Linked DNA regions of Homo sapiens. The protein of the gene in region 1 purifies or fractionates together with the protein of each later gene. This does not show direct contact. Each region holds a gene or a part of one and is shown in the gene's direction. Other genes may lie near its edges.

Region 1 (4,422 bases):
GTAGTTGGATTTATTAAAGGACATTGCTTTGTCCTATCCACTGATGGAGTTCAAAGTGAATGTATTCTATGTACAAGATGTGGGTTAACTTTTTTATTGATGGAAAACATTCTCATTGAAGGAAATAAAACCACCTTGTTAAGCTTTTGGAAACAGTATTCAAGGTTACTACTTAAATACTTGTTTAGACGTACAGTCTGAGGTAGAGTCTCTGCCAAATTGTCATAGCTTGGCTCTAGTTAATATTCTGCCACATATACCTCTCATTCTAAACAGTTGATAAAAGTAGCTTGAGAATACTCAGCTAAAATTTAAGTTACTTATTTTCAAGGTCCCACTTTATTCTAAGACCCTGAATACCTACTGTGAAATTACCTAGTATAATTGTTCTTAGGAATATTTTAATATATAAATTTCTTATAAATGAACTTTGCAAATTATAAGATCATATTTGAAAGAATGAGACACTGTAAGCCTTGTGCTGAAAGGATTTCTAAGGTATACTATTCATTTGGGGCATTCTTTGGTTCATGAGGTAAACACCACTGAATTAGGAGCCCAGGAACACAGCATGACTAGGACATGGTTGCTGGGTCAAAAATGCCATACAGTAGCATGTACCCACAAGATAATTCCTACTTCTGCCAATTAATATTGTAAATATCCATGAAAAAGGAGTGAACTATTTATAGAATATCAGGGGAGCATAATCATTTCCACAATTTTTTTGATATCAAAGGCTTTTGCCACACCAACACTTTGTACTTCAAGACAATGGAAAAATAGAATTGCTTAATAAAAATGTAATTCATTCTTTAAATATTTCTTCAGTTTCTACTATAGGCCGAACCCTGTGGGTTCTCTTTTAAATTTTTAGATGTCTTGGTTCCTGCCCTCAAGATCCTTCTTTGAATGTTACATGCATTATTTCTAGTATCAAAACATGGATCTTCTGGTCTATTTTCCTTATAGACCAGTCTACCTCATTGAAACTAGGGAACATTTCTTTATGATCAAGAGAACCATAACCATCTGCTGGCTAAGCTTTTGCCACTACCATGTATAATGGAAGGGAGGAATTTCCCTTAATGAGTGAGCCTGCCATGTCAGTTATCTGAGAACCTTATGTAATAGGTAATGCTCTTTGCTTAGAAGCACAAGTATCTATATTCTTATATAGATGAAAAAGAAGTGTAACTTAGGCAAAATAAGTGTGTGTGTGTGTGTGTGTGTACATATGTATTTGAGAGAGTTTTAAAAACAATAAATTATTCTAAAGGGAGACATTACCAGCCCTTAAACACATGTATGTACGTATGTACATACATACATACAAACACACACACACACACACACACACGTACACACTATGTTGAAATCATTCCCAAGTGACCTGGAATCAATCTAAGAGTTAAGACATAAACACTTTTGAAGGGGAAGTAGGCAACAATTTATTTTTCCTGCCTTGTGATATATGCTGAAGGTAAATAATATAGAATAGAAAAAGTACGTTTGAGACCAAAGTTTATTCAGTTTGGTTGTGGTTTGTGTGAGCAATTCTAAGAGAGGAGGTATATAGTCATCAGTGAGTAAAAGTACATTTTTCTTGACCTAAATGAAAATACATCCTCATGGAAAATCTGAAAAGTATAGAAAGTTTGGTAGCAGAAATAATACAACCCATTATTTTGATGTATTTTGTTTCAGATGTCCACATGTGGATTTTTATTTTCCAAAATTCGGACCACACTTTATGGTTAATTATTCAATGCTTTTCTGCAACATATACCATGAACGTTTTCCTGGTCTTTAGATATTCACTAAAGCATGACTTTAGAGTCTGCAAAATATTGCACCCTATGAACATACAAAGCATATTTCTCACATAAATCTTTAACAACATTTTCAAATTATTACCTTAGACTCTTTGTGTACATGAAATGACTAGTTTGTATAGCATGACCTTTTTAAAACCTCCTATTTCCAATTTGTTTTCCTAGAAGAATGAAATTTTATTTTCAAAAGAGAACATTATGAATGGGCTAAAATTTTTCATTTGAGAAAAAAAGCCTAGGTTAATTTTAAAAATATTAAAACAACTGTGTGCTACCATAGAATTTTTTTAGTTTTGATAAAAGTGAATTCAAACTTGGACAAGAGAAACATTAAAGCCTTATCTCCAAGCAGCTGCCTTTCTGGGTAGACATGAATTAAACTCACTAGAAGTTTCAGCCAGATTTCTTCCTGAATGGTTCAGACAGTTGCAAACACCAGACTATAGGCTCGCTTTTGTTTAGTGCATCTTCCAACAGGCAGTCATTTGTTCATGTCACTCAGAAAGATAAAATTTTTAGCATTTGCTGAACATACACATATTCAAATAAACATTTAAATATTCCCCTACTTCTATATAAAGAAAGAAAAACCCAGGCAAATTTTAAATGAGCCATATTTTGTTGATTAATTTTTAGCCCAATTATAATGCAATGAGAAAAATTAATTTTACTAAATTTTGATTCTGTAGAAAAGTAATAGCTGTTTAGCACTCCCTTATTCAAAGAACAAATTTAGTATTTCTTGAAATACTTTTCTTCATTGTAGTCAAATCACATCTACATATCTAAAGGAAAAGTTGACTGGTTTTCCTAAGTAAGTATATATTAATAGGAACAAGCATTTTAGTCTCCATACTTTAACCATACTCTAAGCTGTAAATGTCCAGTGAGTTTGGAGCTGTAAGCAAAAGGACCTCCTTTTGAAATGCCTGTTTTAAAACATCAAATGGTATGAAATCCTTTAACCTCATGCAGTTACATTTATTATGAAATATTTCAAACATACTGCAAAGGTATAACGAATACTTTGGAATAATCTGGTTTTTGAGGTAGGAGTTAGAAAATGTTCCATGGGTAACTCATTTGTGCATTTTAGAACTACTTGAAACTCTGTACCTTCAAATAAAAAGTAGAGTGGGGTGGAAGTAGGGAGAGCATTAGGAAAAATGGCTAATGCATACTGGACTTAATACCTAGGTGATGGGTTGATACGTGTAGCAAACCACCATGGCACATGTTCACCTATGTAACAAACCTGCACATCCTGCACATGTACCCCGGAACTTAAAAAAAAAAAAGAAAGATTTTGTGAGGTGGAAAAAAAAAGTAGAGTGATACGTATGCCAAATTTTGAATTACTAATTTTAAAGTAATTTTGTTCTTCATAATCTGATTTTGGAAAACAAAAAACGACTCCCTTTCTGCCTTCTAGTGTGCTAAAACATGAGCTGCTCCGTGTGTACTATTGATCTGTACACACTGAGATTTTAAATTAAAATTAATTTATAAATTGTCACAACTTCTTTATAGTGCTTGTTGCATATAATTTTGCTAGAATAGTGATTCTCAAACTTTTAACAGGTAGGAAATCTAGGAATGGTAGTCTTAAATTTCCTTTGCCCCTCAAGACAAAAACTCATACTAAAAATCCTACAAGAATCTGGTATGTGGCTGGGCATGGTTGCTCACACCTGTAATCCCAGCACTTTGGGATGCTGAAACGGGCAGAGCCCAGGAGCTCGAGACCAGCCTGAGCAACATGGCAAAATCCTGTCTCTACCAGAAAAAAAAAAAAAAAAATTATCCAGGCATGGTAGTGCACGCCTATAGTCCCAGCTAAGGAGGCTGAGGTGGGAGGATCAATTGAGCTTAGGAGGTCAAAGCTGCAGTGAGCCATGAACATGCCACATTGCACTCCAGCTGACAGAATGAAACTCTGTCTCAAAATAATAATATGCCATGTAAGAAGCTTAAGGTTACCACTTCACGCTAATAACAAATTAAAAACTGAACAACCTGAGAAAACAACTTTTCTTGTATATAGCAGAGAATCGAGGTCACAGGGCAAATCTCTGCCCCCATAATTGGAGATAGGCAGATAGAGAGAATCACAACTTAACTGGTGCAGAAACCTCTTCAGGAACCAGTGCGAGGGTAGTAGGAAAACCTGACCTGTAGTTGACAAATTACTGGAGACTCAGAGTGGACAAGTGTCAGAGTTAAGAACTCCATGGTCCCCCATAATTTTGTGAGTTTTACCTCCAGGAGCTCTACCAGGTTCTCCCAGTGAATATTGGAAAAAATCTTCTCATGCTTCCAGCAGAAGAGAGGGGTGGAAAGTAACCATTAAATATGCCAGAGCATTCTGTTTTTCTTAGCAAGGCCTGCAGTCAAGAGAAACTTTTTTACCAAAGCCCAGTCTGCCTGGGGGAAGGCAAATACCCAACTCCAGCTCCTCCAGCCATGTTATCACACTGGAGGGGAGGACTAAGGCACACTGGTGAAGTTTACAACCCAAGGCTAGGCTAAGCCAAAGACTGTGAGTTAATCTTATGACTACAGAACACTTTGCCTCCCACAACACCTT
Region 2 (4,318 bases), on another chromosome or scaffold:
AGTGTTTCGGCGCAGCAGAGAGCGGCCTGTGCCACGGTGCTTTTCTGACAGAAAGGGAGTGTCCTTCCCCCTGGGAGCTGGTTTGGTGGAGACTGGCTCAGAGGGCTCCGCCGTGCATGTATGTCACCTCAGAGCACTGGGGACTCTGGTTTTGCCACCCATCCAGAGTTTACTCTGGAAAACCAGAAGAGTTTCTTCTAATGGAGCATACTTTCCTAGTAATACTTTTATATGATCTTTTGAAGATTTAAACATTGAAAAGTTTTTAAAATCAGCATTATAGTTTTTGTAAAAGAAAAAGATCACGCAATTTGAAATCATAGCTCATGGAGAGAATTGCTGTTAACATTTTGATGACATCTCAATATACACATCTATGGATGTGGGCGTTTATATTCAGTTTTGTGGAACAGGAATGCCTTTTATACAGGACGTGTTGTTCTGGGCTCTTTTGTCACTAACTGTGATCATTTTTTGATATCAATGCATAGAGCTCTACAACGTCATTTTTAATAGTTGCTAAATTATTGTATTATATGTAAGTACCATAATTTATCCAGATCTATACTGAAATCAGGTTATTTTTTCCTACCATGAACAATGCTGAGACGAACATCCTTGTACATAGGCATCTTCTTGTGCTTATGTTATTATTCCTTGGGGGAAATGCCAGCGTGTAGAATTGCTGGGGCAAAGAGTTAAGCGCATCTCAGTTTGGTAGATCTTGCCAGGGCGTTCTCACTGGGCCATGCCATCCCGCACTTCCACCAGAGGTCACGAGGTGCTTTCCCCTTACCCTCAATGAGTTTTGTCCAATTTTGCCTTTTCCTGGTTGTCAGGAAAAGGCTTCTAGTTTCCATTCAAATATTTTTGCTAGTGAGGTTGAGCATCATCTTTTTATATGGCTTTGTAATTCTTCCTGTGTAACATGATGTTTATGTTCTTTGTTCATTTTTCTAATTTCTCTTCTCTTTAGATTGGAGAAATGAAGGCAGAGGTCACCAAACTACATAAAAAATTGTTTGAACAAGAAAAGAAGTTGCAAAACACCATGAAGCTTTTGCAGCTGAGCAAGCGCCAGGAAAAAGTCATCTTTGATCAATGTGAGTGAGTGTGGGGGTGGCCGCTATGCCTGACCACTTCCTGCCTCCGAGGGCTCCCAGTTCTGCCCTGGATTACCCACTTTGGAGCCCAGATGGTTTGTAATCATGCCTCCTATCTGTGGGCTTCTTTTCATACTCCATCCTTTCTGACTCACATAGACAAATGTATTCACTTAACACACCTTTGTAGAGCGGCCTTTTGGTGTCAGGGACTGTCGTCTCACTGGGAGACAGTCGTGTGGCATGTGCAGTGATGGGAACATGCAGAGCACTGGGGTGGGAGTTGGGTGGCCGTCACTCTGTCCCGGCAAGGTGGGCGTCTTAGACAAAGTGACCACCTCGCTGAGTGTGAAATGAAAGCAGACGTCGTCACATGGAGCGGGGAGTGGCAGTCCCTCAGGGAAGAGCATGGACAGAGGCACAAAGGCAGGAAATAAGTTTTTGTATGTGAGAAACCAAAACCAGTCCCTGTGGGGTAAAGGCTGCAAACAGTGAATTAAGGTGGGAGGGATTGGGGGTCAGGGAGTACTTCATGAAAGACTGTAGGTGGCAGGCTCAGGGCAGAGGATTGGCCTGTCACATCTGTGTGCAAGAATGGCTCGCTGGTGGCTGCTCCACCAGTGAGGGGGAGGCTGACTCACTAGTCAGACAGGAAAGGTGGCTAGGACGCTGGGGATCCAGAGGAGGGCATGGATTTGAGAAATACTTCTCAAGGCAGATGCCGAGACTCAGGGTTGGTGAGGTTAAGTAACTTTTGTAAGGTCAGTCCCAGTTCTGATCTAGCCACTTTGGAGATTGTTTGGGAGCAGCTCTGTCTCCTGGTTTAAACCCTCAGCACTCCCTCCCGCTGCATTTAGAGGAGCAGGCGGTAGCTGAGTTTCCATTAGTGCCTGTTGGCAACATGGCCCTGGCCAAGCCTGCGCTGTCTGTGTGTCAGTTTCCCTGTCTTAAGAGAACTGCTGACTGCAGCACTTTTTCTCTGGAGGTGCCAGCCTGCCTTGTGCGGCTCTCCTGTCAAAGTCCAACATTTCTGGGGCATTTCTGAGAAGCACAGGACAGAGATTATTGCCAAGTAGGAGTTCTCCTTAGCCACCCCTGGGAACCTTCTGAAAATAGACTCTGTGAGACTGCCAGTGTTTGGACTGCAAAAGAGAGGAGCGCAGCCACTGAGCAGGCACTGAGTTCCTGTTCTTTGCCCCTTACGCCAGGTCCTGGGGACAGAGATGAACGAGACAGTCTTTGCCAGTGAGGGTCGTGGGCTTAATAGGGGAGACACAGAGCTTAGCTGCAGGACGATGTGCTGAGTGCATCCTAGGAGGCCTGAGAGGTGGTTCAAGACTGACTGGGTCTTGAAGAATGACTAGGAATTTGTCAGCGAAGGGGCAGGAATAGGATTCTGGCAGATGGCCCTGTGGACTTGCTGGTGTGCTCCCAGGGGTGAGAGAGAACTGAGTGCTCAGGGACATGCTTAGGACGTGCAAAGGGTTTTCCTCTGAGAGATGAGTGAGAGGGAGAAGCAGGAACCAGGTTGCAAGGAGCCTTGTGGACAGGACTCCAGGACGAGCAGCAGGGACCGGCGGGGTCCATGCGTGTATTACAAGATCCCATGGCTGAGCTTGGAGGGGCCAGGAGGCCGGGAAGACCTCTTTGGGGGCTGCAGCAGTCCCCCAGGTGGGCAGTGGGTCAGGACTGTGGGGGAGAAGGGATGGTTTTGAAAGATTGTAAGGAGGTCAACCTGGCAGAGTGGTGGATGTCTGTGGGGTTCTGGTTGAGGGTTTCGTGTCACTCGTAGAGAAAAAGAGCACTGAGGGGAACCTGGAGAGAGACAGTGCCAGCTGTGGTCCTGTTAAGGCAGCTGTGGAATATTTAGGTTAGACTCTTGGAGCAGCAGTGGGGTGGGGAGCAATGCTCTGCATAGGTCTAGAGAAAGGCAGAACTCTCTGCATTGGCATCTCTCCTCCTCAGCAGCCTTTGGCCCTGAACAGTCACAGGGCAGGTAGCTAACCCTATTGACAGGTGAGAAAATTGCAGAAGTAGGTTTCGATGGGTTGAGTACTGTGGTCGGTCAAAAGGACAGAACTAGAACCCAGATCCCCTGTGTCCTAGGTCAGAGAACATGGAATTATTGATTGAGCACAGTTCAGATCTCCATTCTCCTATGTGACCTGCATTAGACTAGAACCCTAAGCTTTCGATTCCTCATCTCTAACTGGAGACGTGAGTTCCAAAGGACTCAGACTAACTAGTTGGTCCCGGGTTCAATAGCAACTTTATAAAAAGCACCCCAGTTTTCTCATCTGTAAAATAAGGATGATAACGCTACCTAAACTGTATTGTACTTAGCACAGTCTCGGGGGCAGAGGAGATGCTCAACCAGTCCCTCCTCTTTCTTTCCATTAGGCCAGACCAAATCCTATGCATGGAGGTGGCAAATCATTCATAGTAAGAAGAGCCGCAAATGTCTCATAGCACTTCCCCTCCTGAGCTGGTATTGTCCATCTCCATATCTCCTAGGCCTGGCACAGAGCAGGCTCCGCCAGAGCAGGGTGAGGGGCTTGCTCCAGGCAGCATAGCTGGTGGCTGACCCGGGCCTGCAACTCCTCCTTTGCCAGGCTCTGCAGCTCATCCCAAGGAGTCAGGTCCTTGGAAATTCTCCAAGCCCTGCGGACTTCACAGACCTGCTCTGGGTCTAAAGGGACTAGGAGAAAGTTGGCATAGCACCTCCTCTTCCTCCGTCCCCTCATGGTGATGGGGAAGAGCAAAGGCCAGGGCTGATTGCTACCTGGTCAAACTGACACCATACCTTCTCAGAGTCTACAGGGGAAAGTAAGGAAAAGGCATCCCAGTGGGACCCTAAGAGTCCTGATGCCCTGGGGCCACTCACTGGCCATGTGACCTGGAACCAGCTGCCTCAGGTCCTCATTTGCAAAGCGAGGACAGTAGTTCTGCCCCATAGGGTGGGGGAGTATTCAGTGAGGCCACCGTTGGAAACCACCTGTCACCAGGTCAACACTGCTCAGCTCAGGTCGGTACCTTCTTCCCAGCACTCTGCTGAGGTGGGAAGAACCATGGACTGAGTTGGGCAGGCCCACATGTGAGTCCCAGCTCTGTGCTGGGGCCAGTCTAGATTTGGGACGAGTCCTTTGTCGCTGTGTTCCTCGGTCTTCTCCTTGCAGTGGGGATTTCTGTGCTTTGGAACGTGGCAGTGCTGTTGA
Region 3 (4,422 bases), on another chromosome or scaffold:
GGGATAACATCACTTTTATTCTGCTGTTCACCTATTAGGTATTATTCTGTTTTATTTTTCTAGTGTTTGTGTTAGGGTTTACAAGATAACTTATTACAGGTTTTCTTCAAATAACATCACTTCATGTTTAATGTAGAAATCTATGACAGTCTTTTTTTGTCTCCATCTCCCCTGCCACATTTTTTATCCTATTTTGTCATACATTTTATCAATATGTCTGTCTTAAACCCTCTAATTAATTGTTACTATTTTTAAACAGTTATATTTTAACTGTTTAAAAGGGATTGAAAAATGAAGAATAACTTCTGTTACCCTCATATTTACCATTTCAGATGTTCTTTATTCCTTCGTGTAAGATTCAGATTTCCATCTGGTATTGTTTTACTTTGCCTGAAGAATTTCTTTCCATAGTTACTCTAGTGGTGGTCAACTGGTGGTGAATTTTCACGGCCCTTATTCATGTGAATAAATTTATTTTGCCTTAATTTTTGAAATACATTTTCATTGAGTATATCTGGGTTGATGCTTTTTTTTTTTTCTTCTTCTTAGTACTTTGAAGATAGTGCTCCATTGTCTTGTTTTCCGGTTCATATAGATGTGAAGTCTGTTGTCCTTGGTTCCTCTGTATATAATGTGTACTTTTTTTCTGGTCAATTAATATTTTTTCTTTATCACTGGTTTTCAGCCATTTGGTTATGATTTGCCTTGGCTTTCTTTATGTTTATTCTTAGGGTTTGCTGAGCTTCCTTGGTACTGTCAGTTTACGGTTTTCATCAAATTTGGGAAGTTCTCTGCTATTTTGTCTTCAAATTTTTTTTTCTTCTGCACCCACTTCCCCAGTGCACGCACGTGCACACCCACACACACACACACACACTCTCTCTCTCTCACTCACTCACTCGCTTACTCACTATGTCTCTTCGTGGAACTCCAGTTATTCACCTTTTATGGTGCTTAAAAAGTCACTTACACTCTACGTTTGTTTTTAAGTTTTGTCTCTCCATGTTTCATTTTGGATAGCTTCTATTACATTGTCTACAAGTTCACTGAGCTTTTCTTCTCTAGTTTAATCTGTTAATTGTATCCAGTATGGTTTTCGTTTCAGTATATTTAATTTTCATCTCTAAAAGTTCAATTTTGGTGTCTTTTGTATCTTCTCCTTCTCTCCTTATGGTGATGTTTTCCTCTCACTTCTTGAGTATATGGAACATATTTGTACTATAGTTTTACAATCCTTTTCTGTTCCTGCCATCATCACTGTCATTTCTAGGTCTTCATTTATTGCCTTTTTTTCTCTTGGTTATGGTTCATATTTTTCTCTTCCTTTGCATGCTTGGTAATTTTTATTGTATGCCAGCCATTGAGTTTATACTGTTGCTTGCTTGATTTATTATATTACTGAAGTGTGTTGGATTTAGTTGGGGTGCACAGTTACTTGGAATCTGTTGGGTTGTTTCAGGGCTTGCTTTTAGAATTTATTAGTGTGGGTCCAGAACAGTTTTTAACGTAGTGCTGAATTATTGTCTCTACTAAGGCTGCTTCTACTAAGGCTGCTACTTCTTCTGAGGAGTCTATCATTACCTGATACATTACAAGGTTTTTCTATTCTGGTGGAATATATTATGGTTTATCTCTAGGGCTCTCACTTACTTTCAGCTCTCCCTCCAGCTTAATACCCTGTAAATTCTAGCCATCTTGGTCTCTCCAAACTGATCTGTGTTTAAAACTCAGTGAAACCACCAGACTGCTTGGCTTTCCTGTCCCTGTATTGTGACCTGGAAGTAGCTGGCAGCCAGTGTTTCCCTTCTCTCAGGGATCACAATCCCGTGTTCCCTGTTGTCTGATGTTTAAAACCAATGTTTCATATATATTCTGTCCTGTTTTCTTGTAGTTATATTCAACAGAATATTAATTTTTAACACTTGGCCATTTGGCATTTGGTCAAAATGTGTATTTGGAGTGTTTACTCTAAATGTGATCTCAGATACTATAAAGTAGAAATTATTGGAAACACAAATGTATTTTCACAAACTCATTAAATGTAGACATACTCATTTAAATATTTGAAGGCATACTTTGCTCTTTATTCTGTTTTATATTTTTCAGCCTACATCATGCTTTGAACTTTGTTCTTTAAATATGTTACTTTTTATTTATTAGTTCAGCAGATGTTTGAATGCCTACTATGTAAAAATACATAAAACACTTTTGTCCTCATGGAACTTACAACAGGAGGGAAGTATGCAAACAGTGGCACCAGAGGATTAAATTATAAACCACTTAGAGAGCACAAAGGAGGTGGTTACTATTTGGGCAAGGAGGGATAAAGGAGAGATATGAGCCAAGCCTATTTTAGGGAGGGAAGTTTTTGAACTGGTGCGTGAATAGTAAGTAGCAGTTCAGCTGGTGGAAGAGAGAGGGTAGATTTGAGAGAAGTTTAGGAGAATGACAAGTCAGGATTTGGCAATTTACTAGGCGAGGTAGTCTGTAGGAATTGAGGGGAAGACCAGTTTCCAGCTTGGCCTACTGGTTGGGTTTGGTTTAATGGCTCTTACTGAGATAGAGAATACAGGAGGAGATCGTTTAGGGAGAAAGTTTTATTTACCTTTTGAACATACAAATTTTGGAGTAACTGGGATATTTAGTTGGAAGTGTCTAATAGGAAATTAGATATACAGAACTGAAGAATAAATTAGGGAGTTATTTGCATAGTTAAAACCAGAGGTAAGGATAAAATGTCCTTGAAAAACTAAATAAAATGAGACAAGAGGATAAGGATGAAGACTAAGAAATATTAGTATTTGAGTAACAAGTTATGAAATAATTTAGGAAAGGAAACTTACATACAGAGAGACAAGTTTTTCTCAACCAGAAATTACATGTGGCAGTTGTTAAAAGTACAGATTCCTATGTTCCATGTAGACCTGTTGAATTTGGATCTTCTGGTGGGGGAGTTGTGTGTGTTAGAAATAAGCTGATGTGTACAGGTACTGAGGTTTGAGAACTAGTGCAGTAGGAAGAGAGTCAAGATATGGCAATATTGTTGACAGGCGCTTCACAGACTGGCATAGTTAATTCTCCTGATACAAAAAAGGTCAAGTAATAGGTGATGTCAACTTGAACATTTCTTAGGTCAGAGGAGATAAGGAAAGACTTGGAGAATATATATTTTTTAATTATAAAAGAATTTATGTTCATTCAGAAAAGTACAAAACTCAACATACATAGACACAAAATGAAACACCCATGATTGTATCTACCCAGATGAAACCAATGTCTGTACTCATCTAGTGTATGTCTTCTTTTATATTACATATATAGATACACACATGTAGTTATACAGATTTTTCACAAAATGGGATAATGCTAATATGCCAGAACCTGTCTTATTTTACTTAATGATCTACCATCTTCTCATATTGTAGATAGATGACATTTTATAAAATTTAAAAGTCCCACTTGCATGGGTGACCACTGGCATCAGTTTAGTGTACCTCCTTCAAGTCATTTCCTGTGGATGCACAAATATTTACATATGTGTGTCAGAGTTGTGTCTGTATATAATTTTTTCTTTCTTTTTTTTTTTTTTTTGAGACTCTGTGGCCCAGGTTGGAGTGCAGTGGTACAATCTTGGCTCACTGCAACCTCCGTCTCTTGGGTTCAAGCAATTCTTGTGCCTCAGCCTCCCGAGTGGCCGGGATTACAGGCATATACCACCACACCCAGCTAATTTTTGTATTTTTAGTAGAGTCTGGGTTTTGCCATGTTGCCCAGGCTGTTCTTGAACTCCTGGCCTCAAGTGATCTTCCTGCCTTGGCCTCCCAAAGTGCTGGGAGCCACTGTGCTAGGCCAGTCTTTTTTTTTTTTTTTTTTTTTTAAATTACAAGTGAGAGCATCCTATTAACACCATTCTGCAACTTGCTCTTTCACGCCAGTATGGATCACTCTAACTCATTATTTCCAATAGCTGAGTAATAATCATGTGAATTTATTTGAATTGATGAACTTCTAGATTATTTTCAGTTTTTTCATTTTATTTCAGTGAATAGTCTTTCACATATCTTTGTGAATTTTGTGCAAGTATATATGTAGGATAAATTTTAAGAAGTGAAATAGCAGGACTAAAGGATATGTGTATTTATTTAAAGTGCCCTATATCTCTGTTCTCTGTATTCTTTATAATTGTTTCTGTAATTGCTTTCATTTGTTTACTTTTGCATTCTGTGATTTTTCTTAAAATCTTCTTGGTTTTCCATTGTTTTTAGCAATGTCTGTTCTGCTTTTTTGTTATTTCTAAGGGGATTTCATTTGTTTAGTGATAGTTTTCTGTGTGTTTCCTGAGCTATAGTGGTTCACTTCGTAGTTGTTTGCCTTGTCTGCCTCTTTCTTGTCTCTCATCTGCTTTTTTCCAAGCCATGTAGG
Region 4 (4,422 bases), on another chromosome or scaffold:
AAGCATGTTAAAACAGTTGCATGCTCTCTTACCAAGAAGACATTTCCAAGTCATATTTGCTTTGTTGCTTCTGGAAAAAAATGTTCATTTCCTCCCTCCCTTCCTCCTCTTCCCACCCCTCACTTGCTCTGACTGTCACTCCTTTTTTTCTTCCAGAATGTGTACTTTATATTACATATGTACAGTATCAGTAGGGAAAATGTAAAAAGATGTTGTTTTCTTTTGTCATTTAATTAGGCCATCTGTCCTGTTTTAAAGAAATAGTTAATAATTCAACACTTTATATAACAAATATTAACTAATACCCATATTTATAAAACATTTTTCAGATTTAAAAGATTGTTAATACTTATAAACTTAGTGTTATTCTTAGAAAACCCCATCAAATTTAAATGTGATTTACACAGTGACTAGGAACATTTGTATTTATTGTTTCTTCTCTGCACTTTTCATCATCTGATAAATACAAGAGCTCAAGTAACTGTCTTTTCTTCAAGATGGCTTCTATACTTGAAATCAGTTAATACAATAGTTTTTCCAGTTCTTTTTTTATAGAGAGTCAAAGAGAAATAAACCAAATTATATTCATTGTGTTGGAAATTTGTATTTTTACTTCTAATCAAAAAGGGTAGCAAGTTTACAAAGTGGTAAAAATTGTTACTTCTATAATTAATCTATTATTAAATTATACATGTATATCCTTAAAACAGAATTTTTTTTAAATGAATAATCACACTAAAATGTAAAATTAGAACTTGTAACCATTTAAACAAGTATGTTTCTAGTAGAACAAATTTTAGAACTAAGAATAAATACACTCTTTAGCTTAAAAAAAAAAAAAAAAGTAAGAAAATATTTGTTAACTTTGACTCCAGTGCAAAGAACTTTTATTTTTGTGTTCACAGCACTTTTAAAGCAAATTAGCTAAATTTGAATCTCTAACTCCCAGATTGCTAAAAACAAAAAAACCCATAACCCTGATCCATTTACTTCCAGAGAAATACACATTGGCATTCTCTCTGGAATGTTTTTTGCCATTTGGATTTAGCCTATAGCTGATAAGGACTCAGCCTGGCACCTGGAAGGAATGCCTTCAAATGTGACCATGTGGGGATGAAATTATGTTATACTTGTTGTTGTTGTTGTTGTATTAAGTGGTTATTAACTGGACCAAAGAAAAAATCTGTAGAGAATATTTCCTAATGAAATTTGTCTCCTTTGTAATCACACTTTTTTTCCGATAGCTATTACAAAAAAAAAAAAAAATGGTTCTGGTACAGGTAATCAAATGAACACAATCAGAGGATTGTCATATTTTAGTACCACCTAATATACTTTTTGCATCCTTCTATTTTATTGTCAGTTACTTCCCAGTCAGTCCTGACATTTCAAATATATTTGGTGCTAATATTTTCCCTTTTGTTTTTTCATAGGCCAGTAACAAAACTTAATAGTAAACATAGCTGAGATTAAATGGGGGCAGTATATGACACAAATGTTATAATTAGTGTTATTTCTTTTCCACACTGAGTCAAAGATTATTTCACAGCTATTTCAACTTTTTAGATATCATAATTCTGACCATAACACTTCAAAATATTGTATTTATTCATTCAAAATTCATTGAAAAATCACATGCTATTATATTAAAATTATGTGATTATTTTACAAAATTAGACTTACAGAAAAGAACTATTTCCTACCCAAAAAGCTATATGTTTATATGCAGCATGTTTCCAAAAAAAAAAAAAATACACTGTGCATATAAGAGAAATATGTATCATGTCCATGTGTCCTGAGGACTGTTGGAAAATACAGTCTGGACTTCAGAAATCATCACCTGCTGTGGAGTCATAAAATTCCCCCCAAAACACCACTAGTTCTTTTTGTTTGTTTGTTTGAGATGGAATCTCACTCTGTAGCCTAGGCTGGAGTACAGTGGCGTGATATCATCTCACTGAAACCTCTGCCTCCTGGATTCAGGCAATTCTCCTGCCTCAGCCTCCCAAGCAGCTGGGATTACAGGAGCATGCCACCACGCCCAGCAAATTTTTGTATTTTTAGTAGAGACGGTGTTTCACCATGTTGGCCAAGCTAGTCTCCAACTCCTGACCAGCTTCCCAAAGTGCTGGGATTACAGGCGTGAGCCACTGCGACTGGCCACAACACTAGTTCTTATCAACGTTTTTTCATAGCATTTGGAATCAAATTTTTAGTGGTGAAAATACCTTAGAAATCATATGGAACCGATGTGTCCCAAACATTTAAGAAAAAAAACAATACTTTCTGTAAGTGAAATCTTACATAGATGCCCCAAATTTTAAAAAATGAATTTCATTTAAAGTAAAAGTGAAACAACTCTGACTCAATTGAGCAATTGCACTTATTTCCTCTAAGACACCTCCAGTTTTCAAAAGGATTATTTGTAAAACTATTCGAAGATTCAGTACCCTAATTTTATAAATGATGAAGCTGGATAGCTTTCAGTATTCCTGGCCTAGCTTTCTAGAAATTATAAACATATTCTTATGCACTGCATCCCCTTTGACCAAAGCAATTTTAGCTTTAACCAATGTAAGGAGGAACATTATTTGCCTATAAAATATGCATCAAGCCCTGGTTTTCTTAGTAAATAATACAAATACTTCATTCCAGATGGTTTTGCTACTACATGCAAGATTATGTTTAAGACTGTAGGTGACCATTTAGTAAATAAACATAGTAAGGCTATCTGGCACTAAGAGGGGGGGAAATGTAATTGTTATAGTTTTTTTAAAAATTATAGCTTTCCTAGGAATATTACTTATAGCTTTAAAATATAAAAATCGATCTTTAAGTATTGAGATGCCTATGAGATTAATAATTTTCCCAGACAGTTACAGATTCCTTCTCCTTGCCCTACTCAGTGAGAGTGTATTTCTTATCTTCTGAATTGTATTTTGTTTCATCTTTGACTAAATAACATGAAATGCTTTTCTCCTGCAGATGTGGACAAAGTACAAGAAAGCAGAAATTCAAAAAGCAGGTCTAGGGAGCAACAAAGCTCCTAATTCTATTACCCACTACATGACATGTGGGCCAAGTGGTGAGTTTCCTGCTTAAAATGTAAATGAGATTAGTCTCATTTATACAAACTAACCAAATTAAGTGTGAAACAAGTGCACATTGCATTAACAGATGTAAATATTGCTTGCTTAATTCATTGACTTTCTGTTCTACTTACTAGTGAAGCAAGATTAGTTGGCTGCCATAGGTTTTTACCTGTCAGCGCAAGGAACAAGTATTTTTTTTTAAGTTTTTTTGTCACTTTAAATTTAATTTTACTAGTGAATTATGTTCTAGGAATTACTTTTTTAGTTTGAAGCCTTTTGTGGTAGGAATACAACTTCCCCACAGTTTTCTTGAAAATTAATGACTAAATGCCTATTCTATGATGAGCCACTCAAAAATTATCTCTGATTGTCTGTCATTCTCATTCTTATAGAAATACCTGGTGCATGCTGTTCTTATAGTGGCTGCTCTGTATTTTGTGTCTCTCTTATCTTTAAGCTTTTCTTATATTTTCTTTCTTCTTTCTACCTTCCAACTAAATACAGAGAGAAAAGTGTCCTTCAGTTTCTCAGTATGAAGCCTTTATTTCTGAAGTAACAAGACACCTAGCAACTATAGGAATCATTTTTAAAAATCTTTAAGGAGACTTTTAACAGTCCTTCGTGAATAGAGCAGGCAAGAAATACAAACCTTCATTCCTTGAATCAAGGAGCACTACTGGATTCAACTGCCAAAATTTTTTAAAGGTTTTAGGACTTACTATACCTTGTACTGTTAAGATCTACTGAATAAAGGACGTTCTCTCACTAAGGACCAGGTGTTTTAAGGTTAAGTGTTTAAAGAAGTACTCCAAGAACAATCTGCTTTTTTCATCATTTGTTTTATGAATTTATCCATGTTTGCTTAATGCTTCTGCTAAGTGTTAGCCAAAATCTAGCCATTTATATTTAGTTGTGTAAACCTAAATTAAATGCTGTAGTATTTTGTGGAATGTACTATATAGCAAGATACAGAGAAAATTGTTTTGGCATGTCAGAGCCTTATTTGGTTAGCAGACTGCATGTGTTGATACTTTTTTTTTCTTAAAGCCAATTATTTTGATGCAAAAGAAATTCAGTTTATAAGATAAATCTGAAAAATCCATAATGAAATAGGAGTTATAAAAAATTTATAGTGATATTAATCTTTCCATATTTCCCATTAAGCAACACTAAGCATTCATAAGTTAACCCATGGTAAAGAGTGTTTTTCTGAAACTTTTTTTTAGTAAGATGGTTTTTCAGCAAATGGCATTCCCAAGATAAAGCTGTTGTGCTTTAACTCATTTCTTTTCTTTGGTATTGGGTTATGTATGCGTGTGCATTTTTTTAA
Region 5 (4,422 bases), on another chromosome or scaffold:
TTCTGTTTTTTAAATTCTCACTCTCAAAAAACAACAGCTTAAATAAAATTTTCGCCACTCCACATATTTTTGTGTGTTGGAAAGTTAGGAGCCATTTGGAATAAGGAAACCAGATTCTTCCCTTGGCTCCGCCACTAGATGTTGTCACTCAGGGAAAGTCCTTTAACCCAAGAGGCCTTGTTTCTTCATGTATAGCATGAAAAATATAATCAGTACTTTAGTTACCATTACCAAAGCCGTGTGAATATTAGATGAGTAGGATGCATTAAAAGATTTTTTTAATGCCAGCAGTTAGTCCTTTTTGGTGTTAGAGTCTTATTGAAGGTTGTGATGATTGTGTATAGCTCTGTAGCACTTCACATAAATTAACTCATTGAGTCATTCATTCAGTCAACACACTTACTGAAGTAACTACCTATGGGCGAGACACTGTTTTCAGGCTATGGACATAAAATGGTGAATAAGTCCATTCTGCCCTGATGAGCTTACATTCTGATGGAGAAGTCACTGGAAAGGTATTAGTCCCTGTTAGGTAATCCCACAGTCTCCTAGCCCCTATTCTGTTTACACCTGGTTGAAAACATTGTGCATCCATAGTATGTGAAATATTACCTGGTAGTTATTTATTAAATTTAATTGAATATTAAAATTTTTATTAAAAAACCCATAGCCATTGTCCTTCAATTGTTAGGAATCTAACTAGAAAGAGCAAACTGTAATTGATGAAAAACTACAGGAGGTAATACCAAGACAACATAAAATTAGTCCCCATCTGAATGTATAGGTAATAATGTATTAGAGTTGGGCAAATCAGGAGTGGGAAATTGCAACAGGAATTATCAGAGGACAGCTTCGTAGAGGAAGGAGGGCTTAAGCCAGCTTTAGAAAGATGTAAATATTCAGTAACTGAGATTGTCTGCCTGGTCATTGTGAGGGAGACCTGAGAAATGTTGATTGTCTCAGATAAAATGCTCATGTACTCATGTAAAGTGTCTAATTTTTTGGAAATGGCAGTAATAGGAGCCAGTTAATATCAGAATTACCTGAGGAGGGTATTCAAATTATAGAACTATAGATTCTTATATTTATTCCATTTCTTTTTGCCTCGTTCCCCCAAATAGGAGCATGTTATAATCTAGGGAGGAGAGAGAGAACACAGTGTGAACGGTAGCAACAGAAGAATAGATCTGGGCCGGGCGTGGTGGCTCACACCTTTAATCCCAGCAACTGGGGAGGCTGAGGCAGGTGGATCACTTGAGGTCAGGAGTTCGAGGCCAGTCTGGCCAACATGGTGAACCCCTGTCTCTACTAAAAATGCAAAAATTAGCTGGGTGTGATGGCGCATGCCTGTAATCCCAGCTACTCAGGAGGCTGAGGCAGGAGAATCACTTGAACTCAGGAGACGGAGGTTGTGGTAAGCCAAGATTGTGTCATTGCACTCCAACCTGGGCGACAGAACGAGACTCCATCTCAAAAAAAAGAAGAATAGATCTGGAAAACTAAACGCTTGATACAGCCGAGCAAGTCATTCATATAAAAATTACGTCACTATAATTATTGAAGAATTGTTTACTGTAGATTATAGAACATGGGATTGATGTGATTTCATGAGGTAACAATGACACTTGGTGATCAAGTTATATGCAGTAGACTGGGAGTTGAATCTAGGAACAAAGAACCCTTGAAATTACAGCAACCTTGCTAGTTATGAACAAGTTATGAAGGTTCTAAAGTGTCAGATTATAGTTTTGAAAACATTTATTCTATGCTAACATCTTTTTAGGTCTTTGTGCTTTTTCACATTTAAGCTCAGTAAACTCTGGAAATGCTAACCAGGAATAAGTCAGGTCCAGATACTCGAGGTAGACAATCTGCTATAAACAGGAGAAAACTTTTCTGAGTAATTCTGATTCAGTCTTCATTTCCACTTTCCCACCCTTCTGAGTATCACTGATCTAAGTGTGAATTTATAATTGCTATTTGTAAATAAGTTGGACTTCGTTTACTCAAATTTTCCTTGCATGTATATAACCCTTTAAATATCAAAAGTATTAACACGAATTTTAAAAATTTTCTGAGCAGGCATGGTGGCTCATGCCTGTAATCCCAGCACTTTGGAAAGCTGAGGTAGGTGGATCACTTGAGGCCAAGAGTTCGAGACCAGCCTGGCCAACATGGTGAAACCCCATCTCTACTAAAAATACATAAGTTAGCTGGGCGTGGTGGCATGCACCTGTAATCCCAGCTACCCTGGAGGCTGAGGCATGAGAATCGCTTGAACACGGGAAGCAGAGGTTACAGTAAGCTGAGATCGCACCACTGCCCTCCAGCCTGGGTGACAGAGCAAGACTCTGTCTCAAAAAAAAACAAACAAAATTATTCTAATCTTTGCTGCCCTATTTTAATGTTACATTATTTTTATAGACATTTTCCTTTTTGAATTCAGAACTGTCATACATAAAGTACACAGAAATGAAGAGAAAAGTCGTGAATACTCACAAGCTGAGATTGAGTCCTAATGAGGAAGCCTTCATTTTGAAGGAAGATTATGAAAGAAGGCGAAAACTAAGATTGCTACAGGTATGACTTATTTGTAATAAAGTTTTAAATTCCTTTCTTCCTCAAATTACTTGTATTCTTTTACATTAGAGTGTTCTAAATGTTGTATTTAAAAACCTCTTCTGGGTATACGAGAGCCCTGGTTATTTGGTATTAACTAGTTTTGGAACACTTGAAAAATAGGCTGAGATGGTTAAGTACATTGTAGAAGAGTTGGAAGATAGGTATTATTTGACTCGAATATTGAAAATAGCTCTTTATCTTTTTTAAAAATGGTCTGTAATTGGTAACAGGAAGCTTAGATGACTTTGAAGAATGCTAATTGGAAAGATTATTAGCTGCTGAAACAAATTTATCAGGAAATTGCAGATAACCCTTTTCTAGAAGTGTTTTTAAAGTAAGTTTTTGTGAAGTATGTTTCAGGCACCATTCTGTCTAGAATCAGAAATGATGTACAACAGAAATGGAGTTCTCATCTGGCTCTGTCTGTACTCTGGGCTATAGATTTTGTTGAATCATATTTATCGCTTTAGCTTTTATAGGTTATTAGAGTGATAATGGCAGTCCTTTTGGGAGTGGGCGCTGAATAAAAGCTATCAGTTTGGAGACATTAGATATAGTCTTGAGATTTTTACTTTTTGTACATTCACTCAGATTTTCTGCTTTAAATAGTCTTTATCTAATACAAGATGAGTATCAAAGAGAGTTGACAGACTTAAGAGAATTCATTTGAGTTCCTCTTTCCAAATAGCTTTTCAAAAAAGTTTAAGTAAACCTCCTTTCATATAACCTGTTAAATATGCATTCTTTAGGTTCGAGAACAAGAAAGAGATATCGCCTTACAGATAAGAGAAGACATAAAACAGAGGAGAAATCAACAATTTACACGTTTGGCAGAGGAGCTAAGGGCAGAATGGGAAGAATCACAAACTCAGAAAATACAGAACTTGGAAAAACTGTATTTGGCAAGTTTAAGAAGTATGGGAGAGGGACATCGACAGGCCAAAGAAAATGTGAGTGAGATCTTATTTGACTACCCTGTTGTGGCAGTAATATTAGTAAAAAGTAAATTATAGTTGTTGAATGCTTTTCTGATAACATTTTCATGCATTGAATTTCTTTGGGGCAGCTTGAACTTTTTTATAAATTTAATGTAATTTGTGAATAATAGGCTCATTTCTTACTAAGAGTTATTTCAAGTAAAATCCATGTCAAATAAAATTGGTCTTCCTATGATGTTCAAGTTAGCATTATTCTCTTCCAGTACTCCTCTATCTGGGGAAATAATAATCTTCTGAATCAGAAGTTGTTGTCCATCTCAGGCATTTTTTGACAGATTTGGTGGGGTGAATTCAACCCCCCAACAAACATTTTTTGATGACTTTCAGAAAGTCACAGTAAGTCTGCCCCATTATTTTGATTTATTGTGATTTATGATGTGGAAATACTACAGTCCCAGAATCAGTCACATACAGTAAACAAGCTAGTTACAAAGAAGGTAAATCTTTGATAACAACTAGTGAGAAAGAAAATATCTTAAGACTGTGGCAATCTGTTTCATGGTCCTTGGTTTTAGTCTGTGTTTTTAGTAATAGCCGTAAGTTCTGACTCAGGTTTTTGTGGTTTTATGCATGCCACATTAAGTTTGTGCCTAATGCAATGTTTCCCAAACCTCTGTTATTTGAATACCATGTTCACAATTTTTGCCCTGACTGGGAAACTACCCATATCACTATATATTTTACGTACTTTAACCATGTCCTAAGTAGTTCGATATCCTATTTATATTTTTGTAATAATGTTAATTGATTGCATTAACTTTACATTAAAATGTTTGTGTTTGTCCCCCCTAATATGGCATAT
Region 6 (4,422 bases), on another chromosome or scaffold:
TCTTCTTTTTTTAGGATACATTTCAAAGTAAATTGCAGACATCAGGGTACTTCCCCCTAAACACTTCAGCATATAAACTATTAAGTGGATTTCAATATTTGTTTAGTTTTTTTCTTTTAAAGTAAAATTTTCATACAAAGAAATGCACAAATCTTAAGTGTACATTTGGTGAATTTTGACAAGTGCATACACGTGTGTAACCCAAACCCCTATCAGGATATAGAATACTATTATCACCCCAGAAAGTGCCCTCACGCCCTTTCCCAGGCATTTTCCACCTCCAGAGGCAACCACTGTCTTGATGTTTTCCACCATATGTTAGTTTTGCCTATTTTAGAACTTGATATAAGTGAAATCACACTGTTGCTACTCTTTTATGCCTGGCTTTTCCTCAGCATGTTTTTGAGATTCATACATGTATAAATTCATACATGTAGTAGTTTGTTCTTTTCTATTATTGAGTCCTTTGTATGAATATATCACAGATTGGTGGGTTTTTTTGTTTGTTTGTTTGTTTTGAGTCAGAGTCTTGCTTTTTCATCCAGGCTGGAGTGCAGTGGCTTGATCTTGGCTCACTGCAACCTCCATCTCCTGAGTTCAAGCGATTTTCCTGCCTCAGCCTCCTAAGTAGCTAGGATTACAGGAACCCGTCACCACACCTGGCTAATTTTTGTATTTTTAGTAGAGATGGTGTTCCACCATGATGGCAGGGCTAATCTCGAACTCCTGACCTCAAGTGATCTGCCCACCTCGGCCTCCCAAAGTGCTAGGATTACAGGTGTGAGCCACCGTGCCTGGCCTAAACTTTTGTTTTGTTTTTTTTTTTTTTTTTGAGATGGAGTCTCACTCTGTCATCCAGGCTGGAGTGCTGTGGCATGATCTCGGCTCACTGCAACTTCCGCCTCCCTGGTTCACATGATTCTCCTGCCTTTGCCTCCAGAGTAGATGGGATTACAGGTGCCTGCCACCATGCCTGGCTAATTTTTGTATTTTTAGTAGAGATGGGTTTCACCATGTTGGCCAGGCTGGTCTCAAACTCCTGACTTCAGGTGATCCAACCGCCTCGGCCTCCCAAAGTGCTGGGGTTGTTTCCAGTTTTTGGCTATTAAGAGTAAAGCAACATTGTTTGTTTTTTTGACTCTTAAATGCCTGTCTTATAAATGGCGCTAAGCAGGGAAAAGCTAATTATTAAATATTGTTTGACTGAAATGTGAACCACATTTTTCCCTAATTTATGTCAGAAATCACTATTTAATAATATTGTTTGTGTTTATATGTGATTTTAAAATGATCCCCACCTTAATTAAAATGACCATCCCTGAAAGTGAAGCCAAAAGGAAGGAATCCTCCTAGCCTACTCTGCCATGACTTGGGCTTTAAATGGACCTGTTTTCAATACTGGCATTCAGGTCACCTGCAATTTTTATGTTATCCAAATGTTTTATGTTTTATTGATTTTGATGGAGAATCAAAAGACATCTGTTGTGTCTAATGCATCTACATGCATCTTGACAAGGGGACTGGACATAGAGACATGTCAGGGAGCAGATACTCCAGGAGCTGGATCAGTATAGGGAAACTGTTAACGGACAGGTCTTTGTTCTCAGAGCTCCCAAGATAGTGGTGGGCCGCTCCCAAGATGGCAGCAAGCCTTTTGTTCTCTGACCTGGGGTTCTTGGCCTCACGGATTCCAAGGAATGGAACCTTGGGCCACATGGTGAGTGTTATAGCTCTATTAGAAGCCGTGGGTCATGGAAGAGAACCGTGGAACCCAGCAACTAGTGTTCAGCTGGATTAGGACGAACCCGGGCACTTAGCCATGCAGGAACAATGGCGAGCCTTTAGCCCGATTGGGAGCGGCAATGGGCGCCTTGCTATATCAGAAACGCAGCGGACACCCTGCCATATCTGGAGGGGTGGAAGTCAGCGATGGGTCTGCAACGGTGGCAAACAGCAGTGGTGGACGGTGAGCGAAAGCTCAGCTCGAGCCGTAACAAACACAGACCAGAAGAGTGTGCAGTTGCAAGATTTAATAGAGTGAAAACAGAGCTCCCATACAATGGGAGGGACCCAGACGAGGTTGCCCCTCCCGGCTCGAATGCCTGGATTTATATCCCGATCATTTTCCCTCCCCCTGTGCTCTCGGGCGATATATGATTTGACTATTTCTTTACCTCCTGCTTTTAGCCTAATTTGTATTTCAGTGAGCCCTCTTTACTACCTGATTGGTTGGGTGTGAGCTGAGTTATAAGCCCTGTATTTAAAGGTAGGTGTAGTCACCTTCCCCAGCTAGGCTTAGGAATTCTTAGTCAGCCTAGGAAATCCAGCAAGTCCTGTCTCTCAAAACTGGGTTCTTGTTGAGAGGACAGCAATAACCCCACTCACATGCGCCGAGATTAGCAGGTCTAGGCTCCTCCACCCCTATATGGGCCTAGTGGCTGGTGGCCAGATTACAAAACAAAGAGCATTTCTGATTGTTTTGCATGTGAAGAAAACAAAGTTTTATTGAGTTAGGGTCTTTGCATTCAGTTCTCTGTCTCTTCACATTCTTTTTTTTTTGAGACAGGGTCTGGCTCTGTAGCCCAGGCTGGAGTGCAGTGGTGACACGATCATAGCTCAATGCAACCCCTGCCTCCCAGGCTCAAGCCATCCCTCCCACCTTAGCCTCCCAGTAGCTGGGTCTAGGCGCATGCCACCAAACCCGGCTAATTTTTTTTCTATTTTTTGTAGAGACCAGGGCTTCACTATGTTGCCCAGGCTAGTCTCAAACTCCTGGGCTCAAGCAATCTGCCCGCCTTGGCCTCCCAAAGTACTGGGATTAGAGGCTCAAGCCACCGCTCCCAGCTGTCTCTTCACATTCTAAAATAACTTTGTAGGGAATGTTCTAAAGGGCCCTCCATAGCAAGGAAAATCAAGTGTGTGTCTTCTGCAACTTAAGCTTGTGTGCCTTTTCAGCTGCTCATTTGTAAACACTGTGTGTTTAACTTAGCTTAGCTCTTTGGGGCATAGGTCTAATAGTATGGCTTATGGGTTTCTCCAGATAGAAAAACTTTTCAGCATCTGAACTGGCAGACCCTCTGTGGAGAAGAAAGGTTTCTCAAGGTATCAGCCAGTTCCAAAGGGAGGTGGATTAGATGTTGAGAGGTTAATTGGCTATGGTCAAGGAAAATGTTTGCATCTGAGGAAATAGCTTTGGGGCAGAGATGATTTTATTATTATTATTATTATTTTTTTTGAGATGGGGTCTCGCTGTGGTGCACGGTTGGAGTGTAGTGGTGCGATCTTGGCTCACTGCAACCCCCGCCTTTCACGTGATTCTCATGCCTCAGCCTCCCGAGTAGCTGGGATTACAGGCACCCACCACCATGCCCGGCTAATTTTTTTGTATTTTTAGTAGAGACGGGGTTTCACCATGTTGGCCAGGCTGGTCCTGAACTCCTGACTTCAGGTGATTCAACCGCCTCAGCCTCCCAAAGTGCTGGGATTACAGGCATGAGCCACCATGCCCAGCCACAGAGATGATTTTATATGGCCACTTGGGCAGGGCTTCTTATAGAGAGACCTTTAGGTGGGGTTATGACCCAGGGGGTTAGCAACTGGGCAGTTTTGCCAGCGAAAGTGTAGCTTTCCAGGTAACAGGACTTTGTAGCCCAAGTTTAATTGTTGTATCACCTTCCTCCAGGAGTTGTTTGTATATAATATTTCTTTTTTTTTTTATTTTTGAAACGGGTCTTGCTCTGTCACCCAGGCTGTAGTGCAGTGGTGCGATCATGGCTCACTGCAGCCTAGACCTCCCATGCTGAAGCGAACTTCTTGCCTCAGCCTCCTGAATAGCTGGGACTGACTACAGGTGTGTGCCACTGATATGGTTTGGCTGTGACCCCACCCATAATCTCATCTTGAATTGTAATCCAGATTGTAATCCTCAATCTCATCTTGAATTGTAATCCAGACTGTAATCCTCACGTGTTTGGGGAGACACCTTGTGGGAGGTGATTAGATGTCCTTTAAAATAATCCTTAAAGAGAAACATGCTCTAGTCATATAATTTCAGGTAAAACCATTTAAACATAAAATTTTTGTTTTTATTGTCCATTCCTATGGAATTAAAAACTGACATTTCACCCCATACTCTAGCACTATTCTTCTCCTTGTTCTCTTGCTTGAGGGTTATGGTTCTTTGTCCTGAACTGGTTACTCCTCCCTGTCCTCTTGGCTCCCAAGCAGGCCTGGCTTCTCCCTGCCTATGTTCAAGGAAAATAGGGGAGCAATTCTGGAAAAATACTTGAGCCCATGAAGTGTTAGCTAAGTTATCCAGATCATTAGGGATCCTGTGTGCTATAGATGGATAAATCATTACATTAGCAATAAAAAGGACATGTTTTCCCTCCAAGCCCTGAAAAATGGAAGTGATTAGAAGTT
Region 7 (4,422 bases), on another chromosome or scaffold:
GTTTTGTTTGTTTGTTTTGAGATGGAGTCTCGCTCTGTCGTCCAGGAGTGCAGTGGCGTGATCTCGGCTCACTGCAAGCTCTACCTCCCGGGTTCATGCCATTCTCCTGCCTTAGCCTCCCGAGTAGCTGGGACTACAGGCGCCCACCACCACACCCGGCTAATTTTTTGTATTTTTAGTAGAGATGGGGTTTCACCGTGTTAGCCAGGATGGTCTTGATCTCCTGACCTTGTGATCCACCCGCCTCGGCCTCCCAAAGTGCTGGGATTACAGGCATGAGCCACCGTGCCCAGCCAGCCTCTCCTTTTCTTTATTTGTATTTATTTATTTTTTTCAGCCTCTCCTTTTCTCGGCTCACTGCAACCTCTGCCTCCTGGGTTCAAGCAGTTCTCTTGCCTCAGCCTCCCGGGTAGATGGAATTATAGGCATGTGCCACCACGCCTGGCTAATTTTCGTATTTTTTTTTAGTAGAGATGGTGTTTTACCATGTTGGTCAGGCTGGTCTCAAGCTCCTAACCTCAAGCAATCCACCCACCTCGGCCTCCCAAAGCGCTGGGATTACAGGCGTGAGCCACCGTGCCCGGCCGAGAGTACGTTTATATTTTTAAAGACAGATCTCTCCACTGTTTATTCTCTCCCAGAAAGATTATTTTCAAATGTATGGAACTAACTTTTGAAACCTTTTTCACTCATGTCTTGTAACATTAGGAGTAGCAGTTATTAGTGAGGCTTCTAATGACTAAAGGGCAAGTTTAGCACCACATGATATCAAGGGACTTGTTAGTTGGCCCAGAAATTGGCAAGTCACTCTTTCCCCAGGGGTCCTGGACCCAACCAGAAGGGGATATTGGGTAGCTGATTTTAAAACTACAGTAATATATGATAGTAATAATGGTGCAAGAAAAATATCTTAGAATTCTGGGGACACATATCACTTCTTAGGGTTAGATCTGTGTGGCCCCTTCTGGGCCATAACTATAAATCTTTTCTCCAGAGTTCTATGGAAGTCACTCATCTAATTGCACTTAATATTACCTCCTTCATACTTGATTTATATATAGTCTTTATTTTATAATTGTATGGTTGGTCTAGGAAGTTCTTAGCCATATAATTTATTTGTTTTCTTTGTGCAGAGTCTTTGCCTCCCTTTTTCAGCTTAACAATATTTATTAAACATTTTCCAAGTAAATACTACAAATGTTAGCTGACCCTCTGCCTCAATTCAGTGCTTAGATGACATTATTTGATAGGTTTTCTCAATCACCCAAATTTGACAAAATTAAAAGATATCCTGTCAGTACTAACTTTTCAAATATTGATTCATTCATTAAATGGTGGTCTGTATATATATAGGCATACTTCAGAGATATTGCAGGTTTGCTTCCAGACCACTGCAATAAAGTGAATATTACAATAAAGCAAGTCATGAATTTTTTGCTTTCCCGGTGCATATAAAGGTTATGTTGACCAGGCGCAGTGGCTCACACCTGTAATTCCAGCACACGCCTGGTGGGACAATCAGAACACAACGTTTATCAGTTACATTTGCTGTCTTATAGGGGTACAGTTTATGGTACCCCAAGACAATTACAATAGTAACATCAAAGATCATTGATCACAGTGTATAATGAAAAAGTTAGAAATACTGTAGTAGTTACCAACATGTGATGCAGAGACAGAAAGTGAGCACATGATATTTGAAAAAAGTCACTGATAGACGTGCTCAAGGTAGGGTTGCCACAAACCTTCAATTTGTAAAAATTTGGTATCTGTGACACATAGTAAGGTGAAGCACAATAAAATAAGCTATGCCTGAATTGATACATTTCTACTTACCAAGTTACAATTTTTGCTTGAATTAAAAGAAAAGAGGCATGTTGCTCTCACAAAATTAGTTGAAATTGGTATGCTAGCTCTTCTTTCCAAAAGAATGTCAGTAGACCTATAAGTATTTACTAATGTATTTCTGTTATACTTCCTCAGCCCTATCCTACCAAAAGGAGATTAGATCAGGATTTTTTTTCTTTTTATAAATATTTCCAATCTATACTACATTCTTAATTTCCCTATTTCTTGACAAGAACAACATCTTTCACAAGTTCTTCTGATACAATAGGATGTAAGTCATCTCAGATCTTCAAAGTTAAGTACTTCCAGCCCAAGGGCTAATCTTGATGACTACTTGGTCTCAGCCTTTTTGACTGGTAACCTAAACTTGTTTGAAATTTATTTTCTTAAAATATACCTGTAGGTTTTTAAAAATTTATTTTGTTTGGAGTGCTGAAATCTTATTAACTGTCATTTTCCTCTTTTGAATTCTTCTGACTTCTATTTCATTAAACTATTAAATAGTTCTGGCTGGGTGCGGTGGCTCATCTCAGCACTTTGGGAGGCCAAGGTGGGTGGATCACTTGAGGTCAGGAGTTCGAGACCAGCCTGGCCAACATGGTGAAACCCTGTCTTTACTGAAATACAAACATTAGCTAGGCGTGGTAGCAGGTGCCTGTAATCCCAGCTACTTGGGAGGCTGAGGCAGGTGAATCGCTTGAACCCAGGAGGCGGAGGTTGCAGTGAGCCAAGATCACGCCATTGCACTCCAGCCTGGGCCACGAGAGTGAAACTATATCTCAAAAAAAGAAAAAAAGAAATTCTGTGTTTTCACTGGGCTTGAAAAAAGAGAAATTATTATATTTATTGTAATATAATAAATTATTGTATTATTGTATTGATTTATCTATGTAGAGTATAAAAAATGGAGAATGGGGCCGGGCGCGGTGGCTCACGCCTGTAATCTCAGCACTTTGGGAGGCCACGGGGGGCGGATCACCTGAGGTCAGGAGTTCCAGACCAGCCTGGCCAACATGGCGAAACCCCATCTCTACTAAAAATACAAAAATTAGCTGGGTGTGGTGGCTCACACCTATAATCCCAGCTACTCCGGAGGCTGAGGCAGGAGAATCACTTGAACCCAGGAGGCAGAGGTTGCAGTGAGCCAAGATGTTGCCACTGTACTCCAACCTGGGTGACAGAATGAGACTCCGTCTCAAAAAAAAAAAAAAAAAAAAAGAATGGAGAATGGAAATGTAAATTTTAATGTGAATGTTTAGCTACCAAAGTATTTAAGATATCATTTAGAAAGGTTTACAGAAGTGGAAATATTCTTTTTAAAGACCTATTTGTTTATTTCTGAAACCAGAATGTACTCAAGACTGATCTTCTAAGTTCACTGGAAATGATTTTATCCCCAACTGTGGTGTCTATACTGAAAATCAATAGTCAACTAAAGCATATTTTCAAGACTTCATTGACAGTGGCCGATAAGGTAACAAATGCTATGTTCTTAATATCTCAAAATTGATGTGTTGTTTAAGAAGGAAACTCATTTTTGTTTCTTCAAAGATAGAAGATCAAAAAAAGGAACTAGATGGCTTTCTCAGTATACTGTGTAACAATCTACATGAACTACAAGAAAATACCATTTGTTCCTTGGTTGAGTCACAAAAGCAATGTGGAAACCTAACTGAAGACCTGAAGACAATAAAGCAGACCCATTCCCAGGTATGTTGTTTAGCGGACTTGGGGAGTACAGAAAGAGAGTTTTAGGATGATTTGATATGACTTGATAATTAATCTATGTTACACAATCTGAATACTGTAAAAGCTGAAACCTGAAAATACCATAGCCACTGTTGCTTATAACAGTAATTATTGTAGAACAATTGAGAATACTTCTCTTAATATTTGAAGTTTTGCTACATCTAGAACCCCATGCAGAACCACAATATGACAAAACAGTCCTTTTCTCACATCAAGATGAAAGATGAATCTGGAAAAACATACCTTTAGAGAAGAATGGTTATAACATTTAAAGTGAAAATGTATCTACATTAAAACCTGCTAAGTTGTTTCTAGGATGGCATGGATAGTTGTCTTTCATAAACCAAGTCCTACTTTCTCTTATTTCTGTCTCACTGATAGACATTTAAAACATAGTAAATCGATACAACTTTTAATTCTTATTGATTATAAATGTAATTCATGATTTATCTTCCCTGTAAACTGTTCCTCATTATATGAGGCTTTAAACCAAAACCAAGCCTTCAAACCATAATCTGTAAATATCAGATATCTGAAAAACAGCTTCTGGTATTCTTAAGACTTTAATAATGACTGTCTAAAGTTTTATTAAATGAGCTTATTATAATATGACAGAACTCTTATAATAGTTAACATTTATTGAGCAATTCACTGTGTTTATTCCTCCCATCAATATAGATATAAATTCTATTACTAGTCAGATTTTTAATGAGGAAACTGAGACCCTGTGAGCATCTAATAGTATGTAGATCATCTTGCAGAAGGTGGTAGTGATCATACTACCTGAAAAGCATCCATGTTTGAGTGGCTCTTTTGTGTGTTTTT

Evidence for each region.
Region 2: the proteins of MLF1 (region 1) and CDK5RAP2 purify together in Homo sapiens (affinity purification with mass spectrometry; 3 studies listed by BioGRID and IntAct, with this or other methods). This does not show direct contact.
Region 3: the proteins of MLF1 (region 1) and AKAP11 purify together in Homo sapiens (affinity purification with mass spectrometry; 3 studies listed by BioGRID and IntAct, with this or other methods). This does not show direct contact.
Region 4: the proteins of MLF1 (region 1) and CCDC88A purify together in Homo sapiens (affinity purification with mass spectrometry; 3 studies listed by BioGRID and IntAct, with this or other methods). This does not show direct contact.
Region 5: the proteins of MLF1 (region 1) and CEP295 purify together in Homo sapiens (affinity purification with mass spectrometry; 2 studies listed by BioGRID and IntAct, with this or other methods). This does not show direct contact.
Region 6: the proteins of MLF1 (region 1) and ERCC6L purify together in Homo sapiens (affinity purification with mass spectrometry; 3 studies listed by BioGRID and IntAct, with this or other methods). This does not show direct contact.
Region 7: the proteins of MLF1 (region 1) and KIF11 purify together in Homo sapiens (affinity purification with mass spectrometry; 3 studies listed by BioGRID and IntAct, with this or other methods). This does not show direct contact.

What each region holds. Positions count from the first base shown.
Region 1 is NC_000003.12:158,577,170-158,581,591, forward strand, and holds part of MLF1 (myeloid leukemia factor 1), read left to right. Parts: intron 1-4,422. UniProt on the Homo sapiens protein: Involved in lineage commitment of primary hemopoietic progenitors by restricting erythroid formation and enhancing myeloid formation.
Region 2 is NC_000009.12:120,391,297-120,395,614, reverse strand, and holds part of CDK5RAP2 (CDK5 regulatory subunit-associated protein 2), read left to right. Parts: intron 1-976; coding exon 977-1,103; intron 1,104-4,318. UniProt on the Homo sapiens protein: Potential regulator of CDK5 activity via its interaction with CDK5R1. Negative regulator of centriole disengagement (licensing) which maintains centriole engagement and cohesion. Involved in regulation of mitotic spindle orientation.
Region 3 is NC_000013.11:42,278,406-42,282,827, forward strand, and holds part of AKAP11 (A-kinase anchor protein 11), read left to right. Parts: intron 1-4,422. UniProt on the Homo sapiens protein: Binds to type II regulatory subunits of protein kinase A and anchors/targets them.
Region 4 is NC_000002.12:55,290,339-55,294,760, reverse strand, and holds part of CCDC88A (girdin), read left to right. Parts: intron 1-2,985; coding exon 2,986-3,050; 3' UTR 3,051-3,085; intron 3,086-3,596; 3' UTR 3,597-4,422. UniProt on the Homo sapiens protein: Bifunctional modulator of guanine nucleotide-binding proteins (G proteins). Acts as a non-receptor guanine nucleotide exchange factor which binds to and activates guanine nucleotide-binding protein G(i) alpha subunits.
Region 5 is NC_000011.10:93,664,236-93,668,657, forward strand, and holds part of CEP295 (centrosomal protein of 295 kDa), read left to right. Parts: intron 1-2,446; 5' UTR 2,447-2,472; coding exon 2,473-2,580; intron 2,581-3,371; coding exon 3,372-3,572; intron 3,573-4,422. UniProt on the Homo sapiens protein: Centriole-enriched microtubule-binding protein involved in centriole biogenesis.
Region 6 is NC_000023.11:72,211,083-72,215,504, reverse strand, and holds part of ERCC6L (DNA excision repair protein ERCC-6-like), read left to right. Parts: intron 1-4,422. UniProt on the Homo sapiens protein: DNA helicase that acts as a tension sensor that associates with catenated DNA which is stretched under tension until it is resolved during anaphase. Functions as ATP-dependent DNA translocase. Can promote Holliday junction branch migration (in vitro).
Region 7 is NC_000010.11:92,633,988-92,638,409, forward strand, and holds part of KIF11 (kinesin-like protein KIF11), read left to right. Parts: intron 1-3,196; coding exon 3,197-3,322; intron 3,323-3,399; coding exon 3,400-3,558; intron 3,559-4,422. UniProt on the Homo sapiens protein: Motor protein required for establishing a bipolar spindle and thus contributing to chromosome congression during mitosis. Required in non-mitotic cells for transport of secretory proteins from the Golgi complex to the cell surface.